2 separate regions of the Homo sapiens genome follow, and region 2 is linked to region 1. The links come from fine-mapping of genetic effects on gene expression. A gene starts in region 1. The other region holds a variant in brackets. All regions are shown on one strand. Distances are between the middles of the regions.

What was found. PIP is the estimated chance that this variant, and not a neighbour inherited with it, causes the effect.
Region 2: its variant is the best candidate, but not a certain one, in a credible set for the expression of KLKB1 in lung (TOPMed, PIP 0.71).

What each region holds. Positions count from the first base shown.
Region 1 is chr4:186,225,005-186,230,393 of GRCh38, forward strand. It overlaps KLKB1 (kallikrein B1), which reads left to right and starts at 2,503. Exons shown (of 15, transcript NM_000892.5): 1 at 2,503-2,583; 2 at 3,191-3,249. The coding sequence starts at 3,192. RefSeq lists an enhancer at 1,010-1,680.
Region 2 is chr4:186,194,853-186,200,241 of GRCh38, forward strand. CYP4V2 (cytochrome P450 family 4 subfamily V member 2) reads left to right here. Exons shown (of 11, transcript NM_207352.4): 3 at 1,151-1,236; 4 at 2,088-2,278; 5 at 2,681-2,750; 6 at 4,105-4,231. Among named protein-coding and RNA genes, the nearest start is that of CYP4V2, 6.0 kb to the left of the region's middle. The variant G/A (reference allele first, on the strand shown) is at 3,135.

The DNA.
Region 1 (5,389 bases):
ACTCTCTCTCTCGTATCACCTTGTGAAGAAGGTGTCTGCTTCCCCTCTGCCTTCCATCGTGATTATAAGTTTCCTGAGGCCTCCCCAGCCATGGGTAACTGTGAGTCAGTTAAACCTCTTTTGTTTATAAATTACCCAGTCTCAGGTAGTATCTTTACAGCAGTGTGAAACTGGACTAATACATCTGGGAAATTCTTTTTGTCTCCTTCCTTTCTGAAGGACAGCTTTGCCTGATATTATATTCTTGGTTGCCAGGTTTTGTACTTTCAATACTTTGAATATATCATCCCACTCTCTCTTGGCCTACATGATTTCTGCTGAGAAATCCACCAATAATCTTATGAAGCTTCCCTTGTATGTGAAGAATTGCTTTTCTCTTGCTTCTTTGAAAATTCTCTCTTTGTCATGGTGAGGATTTCTTTTTTTTTTTTTTTTTTTTAGATGGAGTCTAGCTCTGTTGTCCAGGCTGGAGTGCAGTGTGCAGTGGCGCAATCTCGGCTCACTGCAAGCTCCGTCTCCTGGGTTCACACCATTTTCCTGTCTCAGCCTCTGGAGTAGCTGAGACTACAGGTGCCCACCACCACGCCTGGCTAAATTTTTTTTGTATTTTTAGTAGAGATGGGGTTTCACTGTGTTAGCCAGGATGGTCTCGATCTCCTGACCTCATGATCCACCCATCTTGGCCTCCCAAAGTGCTGGGATTACAGGCATGAGCCACTGCACCTGGCCGAGGATCTCTTTATATTTAATCTATTTGGAGTTCTTTTGGGCTTCATAAATCTGGATGTTTATTTCATTTATGTCTCCAAATTTTGAGAGTTTTCTATTCTTATTTTTTTAAATAAGTTTCTGCAACTTTCTCTTTCTCTACTTCTTCTGGAACTCTTCTAATGCATATTAATTTTCTTAACAGTGTCCTATAAGTCTTGTCAGCTTTCTGCAATTTTTATCATTCCTTTTATTACTCTGACTGGGTAATTTCAAATGACCTGTATCTGAGCATGCTGATTCTTTCTCCTGCTTGATCTAGTCTGCTGCTGAAGCTGTTTGTGAATTTTTTCAATTCAGTCATTTTGTTCTTTAGCTCCAGAATTTCTGTTTCATTCTTTTTTATGGTTCCTATCTATCTTTTTGTTGAACTTCTAATTTTGCTCATGTATTGTTTTCCTGATTTTGTTTACTGTCTATCTATATTGTTTTGTAGCTTATTGAGCTTTCTTAAGGCAATTATTTTTAGCTCTTGTCATGCAGTAAAGATCTCCATTTCTTTAGGGTCACCTCCTGCTGCTTTATTTCCTTCCTTTGGTGGTTTCTTGTTTCCCCGATTATTTGTGATCAGTGTGGCCTTGCACTGAAGTAGGCACCTATTTCAGTCTTTACATACTAGCTTCAGCAGAGAAAGCCATTCACTAGTCAGATTGACCAGAGATTGTTGGTGGGCTGTCTGTTGGGGTCTATGCACAGGATTTCTGCTGGAGTTCTAAGGTGGGAAGGGCTGGATTCTGGGTTCATTCACTGTGGTTGTCTGTATTCTGTGCACAAGGACTGGCTTGAAGCATGGATCCTTGGGGGCTGACTTGGCACTGAAATGAGCCTTAAGCCTGCGTCTGCAGGGGCCAGCCTAACATGGGGATCACCTGGCACCTGAGTTCATGGGGATAGGCCTGTTCCTGAGTTTATTCAGGCTGTCCTGGGAACAAGGTCCACTGGGGTGAGCCCAGCATCTGGGTCCACATGGCCCAGCATGGAGCCAAGATCTCTGGAGGCTGACCTGGTGCTGGATCTGCAGGGGATGGCCTGGATTCTAGGCCCATGGGTGCCAACTTGGAGCCTGGGGTTGCTGGGGCTAACGTGGAGGCTAGATAGAGTCTTGGGGGCCAGGCTAGAGCTGGAGCAGGCCTGAAGTCTAGGTTTTGTGTGGCCATCTTGGAGCCTGAAGCCCCAGGGGCTGACCTGGTCTGGGGTGAGCATGGGGCTGAGGCCACAGAGGCTGGTCTGGCCTGTGGCAGGCCTGAATCCTGGTGCTGGGGTTTACTGGAGTGGGCTTGGTGCTTGGGATCTGTGGTGAAGTTAGGTTCTATCTTAACTGTCCCTCCTCCATGCAAGAGGGCATCTCTCTCCATACTGTGCTGCCCAGGCTTGAAGGTGAGATGACACCGGTAATGTGAAATTGTCCTTCCTATACACTTCTATGTGTCTTTTCTTATTTCTGTGCTGCAACCAGGTGGCATAACCTCTCACCTGATTCCTTAGCTCTAGTGAAGTTATTTTCGTGCATGGATACTTGTTCGAATTGATGTTTCTGCAAGGGATGAGCGCTAGAAACTCCTGTTCTGACAAACTCCTATTCCTATTCTTGCTGACATCACTCCCTGAAATAGTTAATATACTTAACAGCTGAACACGGATAGGATGTTCATGGAATATGTTGACAGGACAAAAAGTTGAAACTGTTGGCAGAAACCCAAAGTCAATATTGAAGCCAAGCAAAATATTGCCTGCAGTGCCACATTAGAACAGCTTGAAGACCGTTCATTTTTAAGTGACAAGAGACTCACCTCCAAGAAGCAATTGTGTTTTCAGGTAGCAAATTTTTATTATTCTGATTGTTTCCAAATAAACTATAATTTTTAAGTATAATTTTTTACTTTATGAGAAAATTAATCATTTATATTCTAATTTCCTGAGTATGTAGAGAGTATAGATAATGTTCCTTTATGTAGAAATATTTAAATGTAAGATGATTTTAAATCAGAAAGAATATTTGATTGATTTAAAATTTTTAAATGGGCTTTAATATTTTCAGAGGTTTTCTTTACTTAGGGATTTTTGGACTGACATTATTGCCATTATTTATTAATTTTGTTTTTGCCCAAATCAAGAGGTTTCATAATTGTTTACTCTCTCTCTACCAATTCCCTTTCCAACATTACTAGCCACAGAGTTGGCCAATGAACAATAAACACAACAGTAGTCTGGAGGTCTCAATTTGTATCTTGGGAAGCATTATAAATTTTCCAACTCCCTAGACACAAATGTACCAAAAAAAAACCCTTGTTTTCTATACCAGTAATTGTGTGCTTTGTCTTGCAATTCAGACATTTACAAGAAAATCTAAATCACCTTAAATTAAGATTTATGTTAAATGTGGTCTAAAACCAGCAGAGTTATGTATTGTTTTCTTTTTTAGAATGATTTTATTCAAGCAAGCAACTTATTTCATTTCCTTGTTTGCTACAGTTTCCTGTGGTAAGTGAATTATCTATAAAACATGGAATTCAGGCTAAGACAGGAGTAGCCAAGCAAGTGGCACCACCCCTGGAGAAAGCTATTGAACATACAGCTTCGGGGGTGGAGATTGTCCCTGATGATTCAGGACACGTGTCTATTTAATGTTCCACAACAAGGACCACTTGTCAGGTATATTGCTGTAGACATATGTTGCAGACCAGAGGAAGGAGCTCAGAAGTAGGAATGTCTTGGGACTTGTGTTAACAAAAACTTCTGTTCGCAGATGACACTCTGCAAAGCAAAACTTGAAACAAAAAAAAATTAGTCCTCTATTTTTATTATCAACAGTAAAAAATTAAACTTTATCTGAAAATTCAAAAGAGTGCTAGGCATTTTATAGTGTCTGGGTCCAATCCAAGTATCTGTTAGGAACACCATACATAGTTTTACTCTGGACCGCTAGGGAACCATTTCAAAAATGAAAGTAACTGGTTTAAATTTAACTTAGCAAACCATGCATTTGGATAGTTCTAGGTGAATAGCTTTCAACACCAGATTTAGATCTCATTTCTCTATTAATTTCATTAATTTTTGGAGAATAAAAATGATTCTGGACATTTCATTAATCATTACAGAGGGAGTTTTCTCTGTGTCCCCACAAGGCATGATTCTGGGTCTATGGTGACTTAAGAGGGCCACACAACAATGAGTATTTAATTTTCCTCAGATGTATGGCTACAATAAACATCTATAGGTAAGGTTTACATTCATAAAGAGACCTTTTTTTTTCCAGGAAAAAAGACTTTTATTCCCCCTAAATCACAACTCCCCTGTGTCTGTCCCTCAACCCTGATTTCTCTTCTAAACCGTAATTTACAAACCCATGTGCAAACCCACTGAAAGGTGAGAAGGAGCATAAGCCAGAGACACTGGGAACCACAGCCAACTACAGGGGGTTTTTCATTTTTTTGTTTTGTTTTGTTTTTTGGCAAAATAAATCATGATTATGGCTAGGAAAATCAGGGATGTAAGTAAGCAAAAATTTAGAAACTACATATTGCATGTAGTCCCCAAATTCAGAAACAGTCATCGTTAAACATCTTTTATTTAGTCTTTCAGATATTTTTCTACATATACCTATTTGCACATTTCACAAAAAAGAGTTATTAACTGTGGACACTCTTTGACTTGCATTTTCCACTTATAGCTATCTTTTGGTGCAAATAAGTAATATATTTTGGAGCTTGCTATTCTTCTCTTTTTATGGTATTTTTGTGTGCACATTCTTATGCTCTTATTCAGTTATTTCTGTAGAATACAATTTTTGAAATAAAAATACTAGATTCAAAGGTGTGAATATTTTTGAAGGTTTTGTGGTGTGGTATCATGAAATTAGGTTTCAGAAAGTTTACTCCATAGTTGACTTTTTCTACCAGCTAATAAGAGTGCTCATTTACCCCACTTAGGCCAACTCTAACAGGCTTCTGTTGCTTTGCATCCTGACATATTTATCTTTCTGGAAACAGTGTCCTAATTTATTTCTGCAGAGCTACTGCCTCTCAGTTTTGGTCCATGTGGTTCTGGTGACCCTGATTCTTCTGCTGAACCAGAAAGTGCACACATCCTCCTGGCTGTGGTGACCCAATCAGAGCCAACGTCTTGCAATGAAGCTTTTCTTTAGACATCTAGAAATAAGACTCTTATGTTTTTTTTTTCCAATTTGACTTGAAACTTAAGACAATACACAGGCCTGAGTTGTTGGTACTATTTTGCTACTACGTGGAGCTTGAGAGTAATGGTAACACCAAGACTGGAGCAAGTGGAAGGAGACATATTGTCCACTGATGCTATCAGTTGAGCACAATGTGCAGTTACTTTTTAAGCCAGATTCACCATGGGCTTTTTGGCTCCTGAACCAATAGATTTCATTTGTTTTCAAGCCACTTTGTACTAGGTTTTCCATCATTTGCAATCAAAACCAGTATACAAACACTGGTTATTTAATTTTTCATTTTTGCTAATCTCAGGGATAAAATGGCTTCTAGTTGTTTTAACTTGGCTATATTTGTGATTCTTCCCATTTTCATATACTTACTAATCACTTCTATTTCTTTTGTAAATTATCTTTTCATATTTGTTATCTAATTCTTTAAAATTT
Region 2 (5,389 bases), 30 kb before region 1:
TTTTTGAAAGGATATCGTTTTTTAGAAACACAAATAAATTATTCCGCAAGGCAAGCACTTGTTATCCACCAGACGCTATTTTAAGACTTCAAAAATATATGACTAATAAAATATGTTTCCCTCAAGTTGCTCAGGGTCTCATATCAATGATAAACTTAGTCCAAATTTAAAAGACAATGCAAATTTGATATTTATGGGATAAATATTACAAACCCATGCTGTTGAAATTAGTCCTCCAAAAAGCTGTAGTCTTTTTACTTGTTGAAAGGTCTGGGGAAATCATCTTGTAGTATGGTGAGAAAAGGATTTGGGTCAGGAAACAAAGATGGGGTAAACAGAGCTTCTCTTCATCGACCAAAATTAAAGACTGAATTTCCTAGGAAGTAGTGCCAGGACATGTCTTTCTAATTATGGTGAAAATGTTGGAGTTTCTCTTGCTTCTCCAGAATCCTGGCTCAGAGAAGAGAGCAAGAAGGGCAGACAGGATTTCTGCCGCTGTTGGCCTAGTGTTAATAGAAGTTGGTGTGGTGGATGCAGATGGAGATCTGTCCAGAGTAGGGGACTTGAGCAAGAAGCCTGGTGGGCACCCTGTGCTCAGCCCTAGACCCCATCCCTCCTCCCACTTCACGTGGACTCTGGGTGATCCGATCACGTTCATGGCTTCCATTGCTGCCTCTATGCTGGGGACACTCCGAACAGGCATCTCCAGCTCAGGCCTTATCTTGGCTGTCTCACTTGCTTTCAGACCACAGCAACCTGAAGGCCTCAAAGTTACCATCACCTGAAAATACACCTATGATTTCCATCTCCCCACATGTGCCCACCCTCCAGATTCGCCTCCTCCCACCTCACTGTCCCCCTCCCCACATTAAATAACTCCACTTGGTTCCTGGTTTATGGCGGGAACCAGAGAATCATCTGGGACATCTTTCTTCCCCCCAACTCCATTGAGTCCCCAAGACTGAATGCCAGTTTTATGTTCAAAACTCTAACTGAATGTCTTTGAGGCACAGGACTGAAAATGAACGACGGAGAAAATAAATGTTGTGAATGCCCTAAAAACTAGCTGTATTCTAGCCAGTATTCCTATAATTACAGGAAGGTTGTTTGATGTCTGTATGTCTCTAAAGTATGTTTTTCTCTTCCTAAGGTAATTTTAACTAGTTCAAAGCAAATTGACAAATCCTCTATGTACAAGTTTTTAGAACCATGGCTTGGCCTAGGACTTCTTACAAGGTATGCCAGTGTACCTTTGTAAAGCTGTCTATAGAAATGGTTACTTCTACGTGCAACTTGTTATTTCAAGAATTAACACAGGGTAGCTTTTTCTGTAGCAGGACTGTTCTCTCAGAAAGGAGGAGAAAGGCTGGAAAGGAAGGTCCAGCTGGCAGCTGGCCTTTGCCCGTCAAGAGGCCAAGAGTCCAGGTGAACAGTTATCTTCAGCTGTGGTATTCAATAGCGACTGTCGCCAGTGTTCAGGAAGACTCAGGAGGTCCTGATGGACGGGAGTGGACGGGATGGAGGACACAGTAAAGCAAAGGAGTGTCTGGAGCAGGGAAATCTTGAAAATCCAATCAAAAAGATGGTCAGCCCCAGAGAAGTACAGTGAGCTGGTATCTAGAAACAGGGCTCCATCCTCTGAGAGAGGGCCCCACAAGAGCAAGGCAGGAGCCTAGCAGGGACTTTGGAGAACTGGAGAGGGGAGAGATCAAGGTAGAACCATGGAGTGTGAGGATCATCTGAGGACTGAGGTATTGATGGAAGGAGAAATAAATTTATTATTAGAAACTCGGAACTTAGAAATTGAGAAAAATTCTTAAATTTTTCAATTTTATGAATGCTATTTTAAACATGTATAGAACAATGTCCAAAATACTCATATTTTGTAACTATAGATGAATATTTTATAGATATGTGTATATCTTTGTCATTCTGCCAAAAGCATTTGAGAACCTGTAGATGAAGCTGTTTCAGGAGAATTTTGTTGACTTGCTATATTTATGCTTTAATCGTTTTGGATGTTACTTTTCTCTTTCTCTCTCTCTCTCTGTAGATATATTTTTTGTAACCACATATTTTATTTCTAGTACTGGAAACAAATGGCGCTCCAGGAGAAAGATGTTAACACCCACTTTCCATTTTACCATTCTGGAAGATTTCTTAGATATCATGAATGAACAAGCAAATATATTGGTTAAGAAACTTGAAAAACACATTAACCAAGAAGCATTTAACTGCTTTTTTTACATCACTCTTTGTGCCTTAGATATCATCTGTGGTGAGTCTCATCGATCTGTTTCTAAATTTATGGCATAAAGAGAAAATGGCCCAAACAGGAAATCACACTCCACCGGGAAGGCAAATGGGGGGACGGGAAAGGGTGACGGGCTCTTCAGCGCGGTTCTACGACCGCACTGGCCTTCTGAGGAGCAGCAGCCACGCCCAGGGCTGTGAGTGGGGCAGGCATGGAGCAACTGCCCAGGGAGGCGAAGGGAAGGAAGAACAGGAACAGGGAGTAGAAGTGGACCGTACAAGAGAAGAGGGTAAAGGGAGGAAGAAGAATTCTGAAATATACAAGGACAAAGCAGGATGTACGTCTTTAGTGTCTGCCGCTGCAAAATAAACACGAGATAACTAACGTGCGTGAATTGAATGGTTGCTTCTCACCCATATTTTATAGAAACAGCTATGGGGAAGAATATTGGTGCTCAAAGTAATGATGATTCCGAGTATGTCCGTGCAGTTTATAGGTAAATGGAGTCCTTTCAGTTATTTTAACAATTATTATTGATTTAGGCTTTAAAAATTATTGCTAACAATTTCTGCGTTGTATCTTTTTATGGTTTCAAAATTAAACATTAAACTAGAAGTTAACCTCATCATGTAAGCATGTGTTTAAGCAGTAAAGGTTATGTAAATTATGGCACATCTAGATTATGTAGTAATTTAAAATGATTATTCTCTAACATTGAGATTACATTATATTGTACATAATGATGCTTACATTATGATGCTGAGAAAAGAAAGATATAAACAGTTTTCTGTACCATGATAATTGTTATATTTAAAAATTATTCATAGAAAAAAACTAGCAGATATTATAACAGAATGTTAGCAGTGTTTCTCATTGTCTC[G/A]TGTATGTGTTTCTCATTCTTGTGCTTTCCTTTTGTTGTTATTCTTCTTCCCATATTTTCTGCACCAAGTAGGTATTGTTTTAGTCATCGAAACAGTCAATTTTACTCTAAAATTGCTTGCAATTATTCACCTGTTAAAAGGCAGGGCAAGGACTTGATGAAGTACAGAGAAGTGCATTGAGCTGAGTATATTTAAGTCTCCTGCTCATTTCACTTCATTTTAACCAATATTTATTAGGCATCTGTGATTTTCCAATCACTGCACAGGGTACTGACTGGTTTTGTAGTAGTACACAAAACAGAATAACACAGGAGGCAGGCAACGGACAAAGAAATTCATGAACTGTAATAATTGCTCAGGAAGAAAAGATCAAATTGATACCAGAGAGCAAAACAAGAAAGTGTCCTACAGAGTGAGAGGCCAGGAAAGGTCTTTCTGAAGAACCGGCACCTAAGCTGGTCCTGCAGGAGATCACATAGGGGTCTTTCTGCTCTATGGCTGGACATGAAAGGGAGGTGCTGGGACAGCCAAGTGACAGATGGGTACTTAGAGAGCCCTCGCTTGTAGAAGAGGGCAGCCAGTTGTCTTCTGTCACTCCAGAGGAGTGGTCAGACCAATGATGGACCTTAAAAAGAGGCCGATTTCATCTCAAACCCTGGTGCAGAGGTCCTAGGCAGAGTGGGAAACTTGCCCTGGAGAAGCAGAAGCAGAGACCAAATGGCTATCTAGTAAGGATGTTTTATAATGAATCCTTCATTCCTTTAAAGAGCCCATTATTTTCTGAGGCTTCATGGGATGCGTAATAGCCCATGCCTTCACTGCTAAGCATAAAACATGGAGCTCTTAGTAGCCTCTAAGACAATCATCGTCATTCCCACGATTGCCTTCATCAAGGCCAGGTACTAAAGAAGTGCTCAAGAAATACACATTTCTGATACAACAGCTGATGTATTTTTATCCCATTTATAGAATGAGTGAGATGATATTTCGAAGAATAAAGATGCCCTGGCTTTGGCTTGATCTCTGGTACCTTATGTTTAAAGAAGGATGGGAACACAAAAAGAGCCTTCAGATCCTACATACTTTTACCAACAGTGTAAGTCCCTGACTTTTACAATTGTGGTAAAATAGACATAACATAAAATTTCCCTTTATAACCATTTTAACTGTACAGTTTGGTGGTATTAAGTGCATTCACGATGTTGTGCAACCATCCCCACCGTTCATTTCCAGAACTTTTGGTAAGTCCATGATGTTGATGTTTTGTTAACATACCCGGTGTAGGACTATGGAGCCTATGTCTCAGAAAATAAAACTTGAATAATAATAGAAAACAATTTTTCATATAAAAAATTATACTTAAGTATAAAAATGTATACTTCAATTATGTAGTCAACAAATATTAATTAAGTACTCGCTAAGTGCTAACCACCATACCAAATGTTGGAAATGTAGTAATGAGTAGGACATGTGTATATGGTCCGTACCTGAAAGGAAGTTATTCTAGTAGGAGAGGTGATCTATCAACACATAATTACAACATGTGATATGAGCTGTGAACACTTATGAACAAACAGGGTGCTGTGTAAAAGAATAAAGGAACAAAGATCTATGTATAGGAGTTTTCTGGAAAATGTTTGGATTCGGCAGTCATTTTCAAAGGCAGAGGGCATTGATAGCAGTATCTTAACATGGAAAACATTAAAACTAACTAGATATTAGTATTCTATTTCCAATTCAAAAATAACCAGAAGATAGTGATGTTGTTTTGAATATAGGATGTCAATCTTTGTGTTAATAATGTGTTTTGAAAAAGCAAGACTTAATTGAAAATATACATCAAATTATAATTTCAGTGTATTAAAAAACTGCCTGTTTAAATATGTCCTTTCTTTGCTGTAAATTTTGGTTAAAATCTATTGGAGTTATGTCCTTGTGGTGAAGTACACCCTACCCCCAAGAGAGCAAATGATGAATAAATCAGTAGATGTTCCATGAATGCAATGTTGGCTGAGCTGGCCACAGTGGAGTGTGATCACCTGGTTATAGGAGAATAGCCAGCAGGTTATATTTCATAATTATATTTTTCCTTAAATTTTGTGCATTAATATTTAATAGCAATAATTAAATGAATTCCAGACTGAATAGACAATTTTATTCATTGAATAAACATTGAGAATTGCCTACTGAGGCCTGGGCTCTAGGAATTCCACCAAGAATAAAAAAAGACATGGTGTTTTGCCCTCAAATTGCT